3 linked regions of the Homo sapiens genome follow. The protein of the gene in region 3 interacts with the protein of the main gene of each other region in a pairwise test. Each region holds a gene or a part of one and is shown on either strand. Other genes may lie near its edges.

What was found.
Region 1: the proteins of HOMER1 (region 3) and PRKN interact in binary tests that used the Homo sapiens proteins (3 or more experiments, as listed by UniProt).
Region 2: the proteins of HOMER1 (region 3) and PIAS2 interact in binary tests that used the Homo sapiens proteins (3 or more experiments, as listed by UniProt).

Annotation. Positions count from the first base shown.
Region 1 is NC_000006.12:162,259,113-162,262,766, forward strand, and holds part of PRKN (E3 ubiquitin-protein ligase parkin), read right to left. Parts: intron 3,654-3,654; coding exon 3,413-3,653; intron 1-3,412. UniProt on the Homo sapiens protein: Functions within a multiprotein E3 ubiquitin ligase complex, catalyzing the covalent attachment of ubiquitin moieties onto substrate proteins. Substrates include SYT11 and VDAC1.
Region 2 is NC_000018.10:46,910,920-46,914,573, reverse strand, and holds part of PIAS2 (E3 SUMO-protein ligase PIAS2), read left to right. Parts: intron 1-3,654. UniProt on the Homo sapiens protein: Functions as an E3-type small ubiquitin-like modifier (SUMO) ligase, stabilizing the interaction between UBE2I and the substrate, and as a SUMO-tethering factor.
Region 3 is NC_000005.10:79,507,501-79,511,154, forward strand, and holds part of HOMER1 (homer protein homolog 1), read right to left. Parts: intron 3,518-3,654; exon of another isoform or gene 2,887-3,517; intron 1-2,886. UniProt on the Homo sapiens protein: Postsynaptic density scaffolding protein. Binds and cross-links cytoplasmic regions of GRM1, GRM5, ITPR1, DNM3, RYR1, RYR2, SHANK1 and SHANK3.

The sequences.
Region 1 (3,654 bases), on a different chromosome or scaffold from region 3:
CACAGGTTTTCAAACATTGTATAACCAAGGATTTTTTTCATCTTTTCAAATGATAGATGTTTTATGTGTTTAATATGTGAAGTACGTAAAGAGGAATGGTCTCAGGCTGCTGTGATTGGCTTGGTGTGTTCACCTCTCACCGACCTGCCTCTGTTCTCCCACCCAGCGTCCGATTGTTCCGTGAGAACAACAGGTAGGATCCATAATTGTAAGGCTGGAAAACCTTAGCCATAGGGCAGAGTTTCTCAGAGTATGGTCAGTACCAACATTTTGGGGCCTCTACCCCCAGACAAATACATCAAAATTTCTGGTCACAGAAAAAGAATGAAAGAAGATTTTTTTTCTCGCCATTCTGGCCATCAAAGAAACATGGAAAAACATGCAAGATAATTCTGCACATGAGAGTCTGTGAATCTCTGCTCTAGTAACTTTACGCTATCATTTTTAGTGAAGAAAAATAATCATATAGGCATACTGTTTGCATATAGTCATTTCAAATCATTCCATTCAGTCTTAACTCAAACCAAGAATGAACCAAGACATTTGAAGAGATGAAATCTCAATTTCTCTGTATAATTTTAAATAAAGCATTCGCTCTAAAAGCTAAATGCACAGGAGTTCTGTTGAATGACTGACTATGTTTACAATTTGAAGCAATTTAGTAAACATGTATCACCACTCTTCTAAGAGATTTTGGGGAAAACTACAGTTAATTGGACAAAAACTCCATCCTCAAAGAGATTAAAAGGTGAAGTCAGAACTGGAGTACAAAATAGCAAGTAATAAGGGAGAGTCCTAAGAGTTCTGAAAAGGATTCCCTCCAGTTCTAATGAGCAGGAGAGGATTACTTGTAGTTTAGCTGTTAGTTTAACACAGAGTTAAATCTGAAAGTTGACCTGGGATGCACCATCTCTCTTTTCCCAATCTTTACAGATGCAACATATCTTTACAGAGGCCTTTTAGTAGCAGCATGTAGGGTGCCAGGAAGTTGCCCCCAGTGTGTAGTGGTGCAGGGAGAAGTGTTAGGATGGCAACCCTGCAGCCCCCAACTGCACCATGTAGAGTTGCCTGAGCCAGTCCCTAGCCTGCCAAAAGCACAAGGCTGGCAGGCCACAAGACAGAGGGGTAAATGAGAAACAGGGTGATCAGAGGTTAGATGTGACTCAGACATGAGTGGAAAGTCAAGGTGAAACAGCGCATCATCATAGATCATACAGTACTCTGAAGGCTGCTGTCATTTACCACATTCCATAAATTTACTAGAATTTATTCTCTATTGTTTGGGTTGAAATAATCACACATTTCAATTTAAAAATATAAAGAGAATATTAGACATTTAGCAGAATTTTCTCAGTGCCTACTGGTACTTCAGACCCTATATAGAGAGAATACTATATTTTCTTAAAATATTATGGTCTAGAGAGAGAGAGAGAGTCAGTTGAAAGTGTCAATAATTCTAAGTTCATTCTCATAAAAGAAAATTCTGGAGAAGACCAAGGGCAATTTTATGATAAAACAAAATAAGAAGACTAAAATTTTCAGATGAATATGGTTGATAAGAGAGTAGAGCCAGATGCACTAGGAAATGTATTAAAGAACATGAATATGTACACAACAGGATTCTTGTGCTCAAATTGTTTTTAATATTCAGATAATAAGTAAAGGTTTAATTTTGCTCTAAACAATGTGATTTTTTTATTTTTAGTAAGAATTTTATTTTGGGAAATCAAATTAAAGAACTAGTAGATAGGTCTCCTAACATAATAAATCCAATCTGTTATACAGTTGTACAGGAACAAACATAGTAAATATAGGGTTTGGTACCATTTTTGGTTTCAGGCGTACACTGGGGGATTTGAAACGTATTGCCTGTTGATGGGGAGGGACAACTGTACATGTGAGACACCCAGAAAAAATGCATAAATCTCAAAGAGGTGCCTAAAATTCAGGCTTGAATACCATCTTCAATGGCAAAGGAAGAAAGGGAGAGGAGAAGACAAGAGTAAGGTTTGTTAGGCAGATTATTCAGTTGGTGCCTTCTCAAGGATCAGAGTCTCCAGAGACTCTGTCCTCCTCATCCTAGTAAGGAGAGGGAGACACCCTTACAAATGGAGACTTCCTTGGTAGATATAAATTTCCCTTACAAAAGGGTCACTTCTACTCTGTTTTTAGAGCTTTTCCTGTGTCTACTGTTTCTCAAAATAATCAGCTTAAAATAATACTTATGCTAAAGTGGCATATTTTGGGGTGGCATATTCTGGTCTCATACACACTCAAGGTGGAATTTTCCATTGTTTGGTTTATAATGTTGGAGCATGAGTATTCTCTAGAGGTGTCAGTGTCAGAATGATCTTATACATACTCTGGTTGAAACGTCAGAATTGTTATGGGCTTGGGTTCGATATTTATATTAATATATTATTCTGGTCACAAGAGTATTGCAGGGGTTTAGATTTATCTCATTTTTCCCCATTTTTGACATTTATTTCCATTTCTCAATTTTTCTTTCCAGACCTGAGGTGCCCAGCTCACATGAAGCAGAGCCTCTTTCCCTCCCACAATCATCTCAAGATCACCAGAGCATCAGTTAATGCCTTACTTTCTGGGCTTATCTACTCCTGTATTTAAAGATGTTGTTTCTACATTTTCACTTGTCCTTGGAAATTATCTTTTTTTATTTTTTGCAAGATCATCGAAAATTTTTAAGTTCCTTAAATTTTATTTAGTAAGTTTAGTAGGAGGCATTTCTTATTATGTTAGGCTTCCATCTTGCAGGCCCCAGAACTTTCTGACACTGTGAAGGCCATACCAGCCCACAACTGCCAGGATCTATTGTATGTGGGAGGAAAATCAACTTCTACCCTGTAAAGTCATTGTGATTATTTTGTGTCTTCTGTCAAACACAGTAAAAATTAATTCTATTACACCTTTGACTATTTAGATTAGAGAATAAAAGACTAAGAGGCACATATTAATTTTTTTAAAATAACTAAACAATAACAATCTTTGCCAAAGAAAAGCATTTTGAAATGGGTGGTAGCATAGAGAGAAGGAAGAGTCCTTTCACACTAAGGATGTCATTGCCATTGGCATATCTGGCTTTAGAAACTACAAATGGCTCGATTAGCTTTAGAGTTCTTTCTGCTTTTTAGAATTTTTCTACATCACTAGAAACATATCTCTTATATTTAATCTCAATATGAAAACCTGTTTCATAGTACTTACAATAAATGCATTCTCAAATGTTACATCAAAGTACTCCACCTACAGTGATGTCTCCTTGTAGTGAATTAGAGACTCCAATCCAAAACGTATCATAAACTAAATATGCACCCGGTGAGGCCATGCTCCATGCAGACTGCACTAAACAAACAAACAAAATGCTTTAATAATCTTAGAGCATTCCAATTACCTGGACTTCCAGCTGGTGGTGAGTCCTTCCTGCTGTCAGTGTGCAGAATGACAGCCAGCCCCACAGAGTCTCCTGGGAGGACTGAGCTGCTGAGGTCCACCCGAGTCAAGCTCTGGGGCTCCCGCTCACAGCCTCCCGCCGCGTTTCTGGGGTCGTCGCCTCCAGTTGCATTCATTTCTTGACCTTTTCTCCACGGTCTCTGCACAATGTGAACAATGCTCTGCTGATCCAGGTCACAATTC
Region 2 (3,654 bases), on a different chromosome or scaffold from region 3:
GGAGTTGGGGGGGGGAGGGTTGGTTATTCGATTAGGCAACTGTTAAGGGGGTCGCCTGACTATTTCAGTTTTGGAGACTGCTGCGTGAGCCAGTACCAGAGATCTTGGCTGGTCATAGCAGAATATGGCAGCTCTATACCTTGTTGCCTTTCAGTCCGGGTGACCAGAATACCAGCCCACCTCTCTTCCAGTTCTTCTGGGAGAGAGAATCTGATTGGCTGAGTTTAGGTCTCTACTTCTGTTCTAATCATCCATAGCCGGGGGCTTAGAGTCAAAGCACACAAACCTGATCAGCAGATTATCCTGATGGATTGAAGGAAAGGAAGTGGGGAAGTTCTCTGAAAAGGGAAAATGTGGCCTGTGTGCTCAAAGATGGTTACAATAATGTGTTATATATTAGAAGCTTTCAAGGTGCCAGAGAAGAAATTACTCAATTTACCAGTTGCTTATTTATGGCATCTGTGTTGTTAGGAGCTGAAGGAGTGATTAGTTTGTGAATGAACAGATTTTGAATTAACTAGTTGTGAATTAATGTGGGACAAGATCATAAGATTTGATGGCCTGAACTTCTGTCACTGCTGCCTTGCTTCCTCCTCCAAAAATGGTCTGGAGGGCAGGGCTTGGTAGCTCACACCTGTAATTCCAGCGCTTTGAGAGGCAAGAGGATCGCTTGAAGCCAGGATTTCTGGGTTACAGCTAGCTCTGATCTTGACACTGCACTCCAGCCTGAGCGACAGAGGGAGACCCTGTCTCAAACTAGTCTGTAGAAGAGCTAAGCACAGGGATGGAGGAGAGCAGGAGTTGAGTTTCTGGAATCACTTACCTCTTCTTTAACCAGAGCAGCTTTTTCTTTACCCTTCCAGTTGCATATTTCCAATATTGTGGTCTGCTGGTGGCAGTCATTCACAAAAAGGTCCCTGCTACACTTTAACCTGGTTAATCTACTTTCCCTACTTCTCATCACTCAATGGGGAGGAGGGGGATCTATTGTAGTGACTTTTTTTTTTTTTTTAAGGATCTCCCTTCTGTATTCTTCATCCCCTTCTTTTCATGCATTGAGAATTTATTCTGTGTGTGTCTCAGAATGAGAGAGAATGTGCCTGTGAGAATCTGGTTGTGCATTTGGCCTGAGAGAGCCAGCGATGATAACTTTATCAATAGATACTGGGTAAACCAGAACATTTACCAAACTGGGTAAATTTGTTGTGTCATAATTCGAAGATCAGATTTGGGTCTTTCATGCTAAGAAGCCTAAGTAATTCTGTAACAGAAGGTCTTCTGTCTAGAAGGCTTAAGTGTTTGGTTTCCTTACACCTACCAGGAGTCACCATCCTGATAACTTCAAGTGCTGTTAGGATGCAGCAGGAGAATGGGAAGTTAATGGGGGATTTGAGGTTAGAGGTCCTCATCACGCTCCTCTCCCCATTTATTGGGCAGGGATACAGACTAATAGCTATGATAGATATAACAGAATCTTCCATATGATTCAAAGCTATTATGGGATGCAACTAAAATTTCCAAGGCTTCACCTGAGCTCATGTCTATGAAAGCACGTTCGAAACAAAATATATTTAACTTAAAGTGAAATAGGCTGGGCGCAGTGGCTCAAGGCTGTAATCTCAGCATTTTGGGAGCCTGGGGCGGGTGGATCACCTGATGTCACATTTTTTATTCTCTCATTTCCATTTCTCATATTTTTTAAATGAAAGCAATATTTGTGCAGACAGTACTGAAAAAATTCAAAATAGTGAAAGTCTTCCCTTTTCCATTAAATCCCACTCCCATTATGCTTTTAACCATTTTTGTTTGTTTGTTTTTAGGGTTTTATTGTTGTTCCAAAAGTCTAAAAATATACCATGCCTTTCTCTCTATATTTTTTCAACTCAAAAAAAATATTTCTTAACTTTTTGCTAGATAAGAAATTTAGGTCATTTTCCACCTGTCCTAGACTTTGATTTCTATCAGTTACATTTTGGTTCCTAATTTTGCTGTTATTTTTAACTTTTTATTATAAATTTCTGTTTATTGACCTATCACTTTTAGACAGTATATTTGGCCCTTCATGTCTGTGAATGACTTATCTTTGGTTTCAACCAACCTTGGATCAAAAATATTCAGGAAAAAAGGTTGGTTACATCTGTACTGAACATGTACAGACTTTTTTCCTTGTCAGTATTTCCTAAACAGTATAGTATAACAACCATTTCATAGCATTTGCCATATATTAGGTATTGTAAACTAGAAATGATGTAAAGTACGTAGGAGGATGTGTATAGCTTATATGCAAATACTATGCCATTTCATGTAAGAGACTTGAGCATTCTTGGATTTTGGTATCTGCAGGGGACCCTGGTACCAGCCCCCTACGGATACTGAGAGACAACTATATTTCCTCACTTCCTGGTCTTTCAGAAAAAGATATAACACCGATCCCTTTCCTTTTGGGATTTAAAAGCCAAACCTTGCCTTTGTTTTTCCCTCCTCCCTTCCTAGCCTTTGTTTTCTTTTTTCCTTTTTTTTTTGAGACAGGATTTTGCTCTTGTTGCCCAGGCTGGAGAGCAATGGCGCCATCTTGGCTCACTGCAACCTCCGCCTCCTGGGTTCAAGCGATTCTCCTGCCTCAGCCTCGCGATTAGCTGGGATTACAGGCACCTGCAACCATGCCTGGCTAATTTTTGTATTTGTAATAGAGACAGGGTTTCACCATGTTGGTCAGGCTGGTCTTGAACTCCTGACCTCCGGTGATCCACTCCCCCTCCCTTGGCCTCCCAAAGTGGTGGGATTACAGGCATGAGCCGCTGAGCCCGGCCCCAGCCTTTGTTTTTGGTTAGTACTGTTACATTGGCAAGATTTATTGCATTTATATAATGTTTTATAACTCTTCTAAAGTTTTCTGTGCTTCTGCAGGAAAATCTAGAAATTGAGTACTAATAGCCACTCTTTTAAATATGTATGTTGACATGAGTATTAGTTACTATAGAACCAAGTACTGTGGAGCCATAGAGAAACTTCACTTCTGTTAAACCTGTGATCCTTAAAAAGGAAATATAACAAAGTCAGCCGGGCACAGTGGCTCACGTCTGTAAGCCCAGCACTTTGAGAGGCCCAGGCAGGCGGATCGCCTCAGGTCAGGAGTTAGAGACCAGCCTGGCTAACATGGTGAAACCCCGTCTCTACTAAAAATGCAAAAATTAGCCCGACGTGGTGGTGGGCACCTGTAATCCCAGCTACTCGGGAGGCTGAGGCAGGAGAATTGCTTGAACCCGGGAGGTGGAGGTTGCAGTGAGCCAAGATCATGTCATTGCACTCCAGGCTGGGTGACAAAGCAAGGCTTCGTCTCAGGAAAAAAAAAAAAAAAAGAAATATAACAAAGTCCTGGTTGAATGAGGAAAGCTCATTGAAGTTATTTTTAAAATTTAATATTATAATGGGTTCTCATGTTGTAGCCATTCAGCTTGTCTTGGTAGACTTTCCGGAGTCTTGGCCTGCCTTTTCTAATTTGGGAAGCTTAGTAGACCTGTTACCCAGCTGTCATCCTGGGATTACTTCACATTGTTCTCCTGGGTTAGATCTATTGTTATTTGGATCCCATGTTTTTCTCTTTTAGATACCTTTTTTATTTTACAGGAATACAGCCTTCAATAGTTGTTTCTG
Region 3 (3,654 bases):
GCACATTTCATTCCACGAGATACGACCTGAGATATAAATCTATGTAAAATGTTTTATAGTCATTTAAAAACTACATCAGAAAAAAATTATATCAGAAAACATTAAGCACTCGGCACTCATTTTCCCTACTCTTCTGTCCAGTTAGTCATATTAATCTGAAATAACAATCCAGTAACTAAAAATAAATACTTCAACTAAACACTAAAGACTGAAAAAAAAAAAAATCACATGGCAGTAGAGAGGTTAGACCTTTTGGGATATAACCACCTTTTCTTCTGAGATGTTTAATCACTCAAAACTATAAACTATGAATAAGGACAGTTTCTTCTGTCAACCCCTTAACTCCCAAATTCACTATTTTATGACCCATAGTTAGTGACTCTGCTAAGAACATACCATGCTCTTTGCTACATTCTTACCTCTCCAATGAAATGTCCTAATTCTGAAAAAGCCCCGTTCAGCCAACTACACATCTCTCAGTCACCATCCCTCCCCTCCCCACTTCGGAACCTTCCAGGGCCTGCCCAACTGTCCACTTCCTCTACCCAGCCAGAGTTCATTGTTCTGGCTTGGTGTTTCCACAGGATACAAGACACAAAACCAAATTGTAAATGATTTTTAAAATTGCTTTCTTATTCTACTTCCCTGATCATGTTCTTACTCTGCTTAAAACCCTTTAGTAATCTTCACACAGAAGAGAAGTGCTTTTCAAATTACCAGTTGCTAACACAGCGTCATTAAATAAATTGAGTGGGTCACCATCATCAGTCTATCTTAAAAATAAAATAGAACGGAACAGAATAGAAACTACCAGAGTGTACCATACAAAGCAAGGGTATTATGTAGTGACATTTTATCATTTATATACAAGCATATTGGGTTGCAATGTAAAGATGCTTATCTTTCCAACGGGTCATAGCCAAAAAAACCTCTAAACACACTAAACTACAGGATAATCCAATCTTTCATTTGATCTACATGGTTCTCCAACCCAGTCCCTGCATAATAAGGCTCTAGACCTATCTCTTGCTACACCAAAGGGAGCTAGCTCAAGCAAACAAGCTTGTCATGCCAAACTCCTTTGCAGTTCCTCGTTTTAGTGGTGTCAATCACTGTTCTCTCTGCCTTGAATGCCCTCTTATTTGTCTAAGAGGCTCACTTGTACTCATCTTTCAGTATTTAACAACTATCACCTCCTCTACAAAGCCTTTTTATCCTTCCCTCAGCAGCTAATGCCCCCCCAACACACACTTTGTGTCTCCATAATGCCCTACATTATAGCTCCTACAAAATTTCATTGCACATTTTAATTTTAGGCTTGACTGTCTGCCCAACTTCCAAAGTATAAACTCACTAAGGGAAGGAGCACATTGTATTGGCCTTCCTATCAGCAGCACTGAGGTAAGTACACGCACTATAACAAAGGTTCAAAGTTGGTAAAATGAACAAATGACGAATTAAGGACTTGCATCTAAGTTGTCTATTGTCAGATATGATAGGGTGGTTATCTTTGCAATAAAACCCATTTATAGTGCTGGATCAAGATTTTCACATTTTTGCTACAACCCCTAGAGAGCAGAACCCTGCAGTTTGAGGCAGAAGGAGGTGTCAGCTTCCCATCTTTCAGCAAAGAGACTCAGTTTGGGCTGCAATGTAGCAGCACTCATTTCCATGCTTCTGGAAGTTATTTGGGGAAAGAGGGGAAGGAAGGACTCCAGAAGTTCCCATAGGCAGGTGAGATAAATCAGAAACAGCATTAACAGATTCCATTAGCAGGGAGAGCCCCATTTTATGTATAAGTAGCTCTTAATAAGGGAAGGGAGGGAAAGAATTCTTTACCATTGCTGATGGCACTAGGTTGCCAAAATGAGCTAAGTAAAAACAAAGGGTTTCATGAAATAAGTGGTTGAAGTTACTTGATTTCTGTTGCCTACTGTGATAGTTCTGAAATAGCTACTGACTCACTGCTGTCATTATGAGATACTATTTGGAGGTGGGGGTGGGGGTCATACCTAACAGGGGCTCCTCACTGAGGCTTCAAAACTTTTCAGAGACTTCATTTTACATACATGAATGCCTTAATTTTTAGGGGATCTGATACACCTATTTTACAAACCCATACTTTAGTTGCCTTCACTGCAATTAACAGTTCATGCAACATCCAAGATACTTTGACAGACTTTGCCAACTGTCAAGTTTCAGCTGTTCTTCTCCATTTCCAAAAAGTTCATAAACTACTATTAGGGGAGCCATAATTTTTTTCTGCCCAATCACTGATTTTATTAAAAATAATTCCTTTGCTTAGACTGCCCCTAGACTTGCAATAATTATCTACAATTAAGACGAAGATAAATCCTTATTATAACCTAACATTAGTTTAAAAAAAGAAGGTTGTAATATGTGAAACACTTTACCCACAGTATTAAATTTTAGATATCTATTACAGTAAGGTAATTATGGATTGCCAAGGTAAAGCTTTAAAAGCCATTTAAAGCCCTGTTTCCTTTTGCTTGAAATAGGTCCAGGCAGCTATGCTAATTCCACAAACATTTATTAGGCATAAATACGCATAAAGTGTGGAAACGTCAGCAAATGCCTTTGCTGTATGCTCTTCTACTTCCATCTACCCTTCCTCTCTCTACTCAAGTCACTATCAATGAGAAAGGGTCATAGCCCCAAATACAGGCTTTCCAAAAAAAAAAAAATAGCACCACAAAATGCTCGCTCCTTTTTCTCCTCAGTCCATATATAGAACTTTATTAACTAAAGGGCAGATACATTCATTTATAAACAAATTAATTATGCTAAGTGTCTAAATGCATGTTATGTGTGGTGCTAACTTTCCCACTTTAAACAACAGCCCCCTTAGTATTAAATTCATCCTGTCTCTTCAGATTCTAGGCGCTTCAGGAGCCGCGCCTTAAGGTGCAGACATGGCCAAGTCCAAGAACCACACCACACACAACCAGTCCCAAAAATGGCACAGAAATGGTATCAAGAAACCCGAAGCACAAAGATACGAATCTCTTAAGGGGGTGGACCCCAAGTTCCTGAGGAACATGCAGTTTGCCAAGAAACACAACAAGAAGGGCCTAAAGAAGATGCAGGCTAACAGTGCCAAGGCCATGAGTGCACATGCCAAGGCTATCAAGGCCCTCCTAAAGCCCAAGGAGGTTAAGCCCAAGATCCCAAAGGGTGTCAGCCGCAAGCTCAACTTGCCTACACTGTCCACCCCAAGCTTGGGAAGCATGCTCGTGCCCGCATTGCCAAGGGGCTCAGGGTGTGCTGGCCAAAGGCCAAGGACAAGGATCAAACCAAGGCCCAGGCTGCAGCTCCAGCTTCAGTTCCAGCTCAGGCTCCCAAAGGTGCCCAGGCCCCTACAGAGGCTTCAGAGTAGATATCTCTATCTGCCAACGTGAGGACAGGACTGGTGCGACCCCCCGCCAGGCTGCCATCTGCATGGGGCTGTGGGGCTGGGGTCCTCCTGTGCTATTTGTACAAAGAAACCTCAGGCAGGGAAAAAAAAATTCATCCTAAGCTTCCCTTGGTAAAATGACAGGCATTCATGCAGCTTAAAGGTTCTGGAAAACTGATTTTCTTCCATGATGCTACTACTCCACAGTCTAGACAAAATGCAGCCATCAACATGAAAAA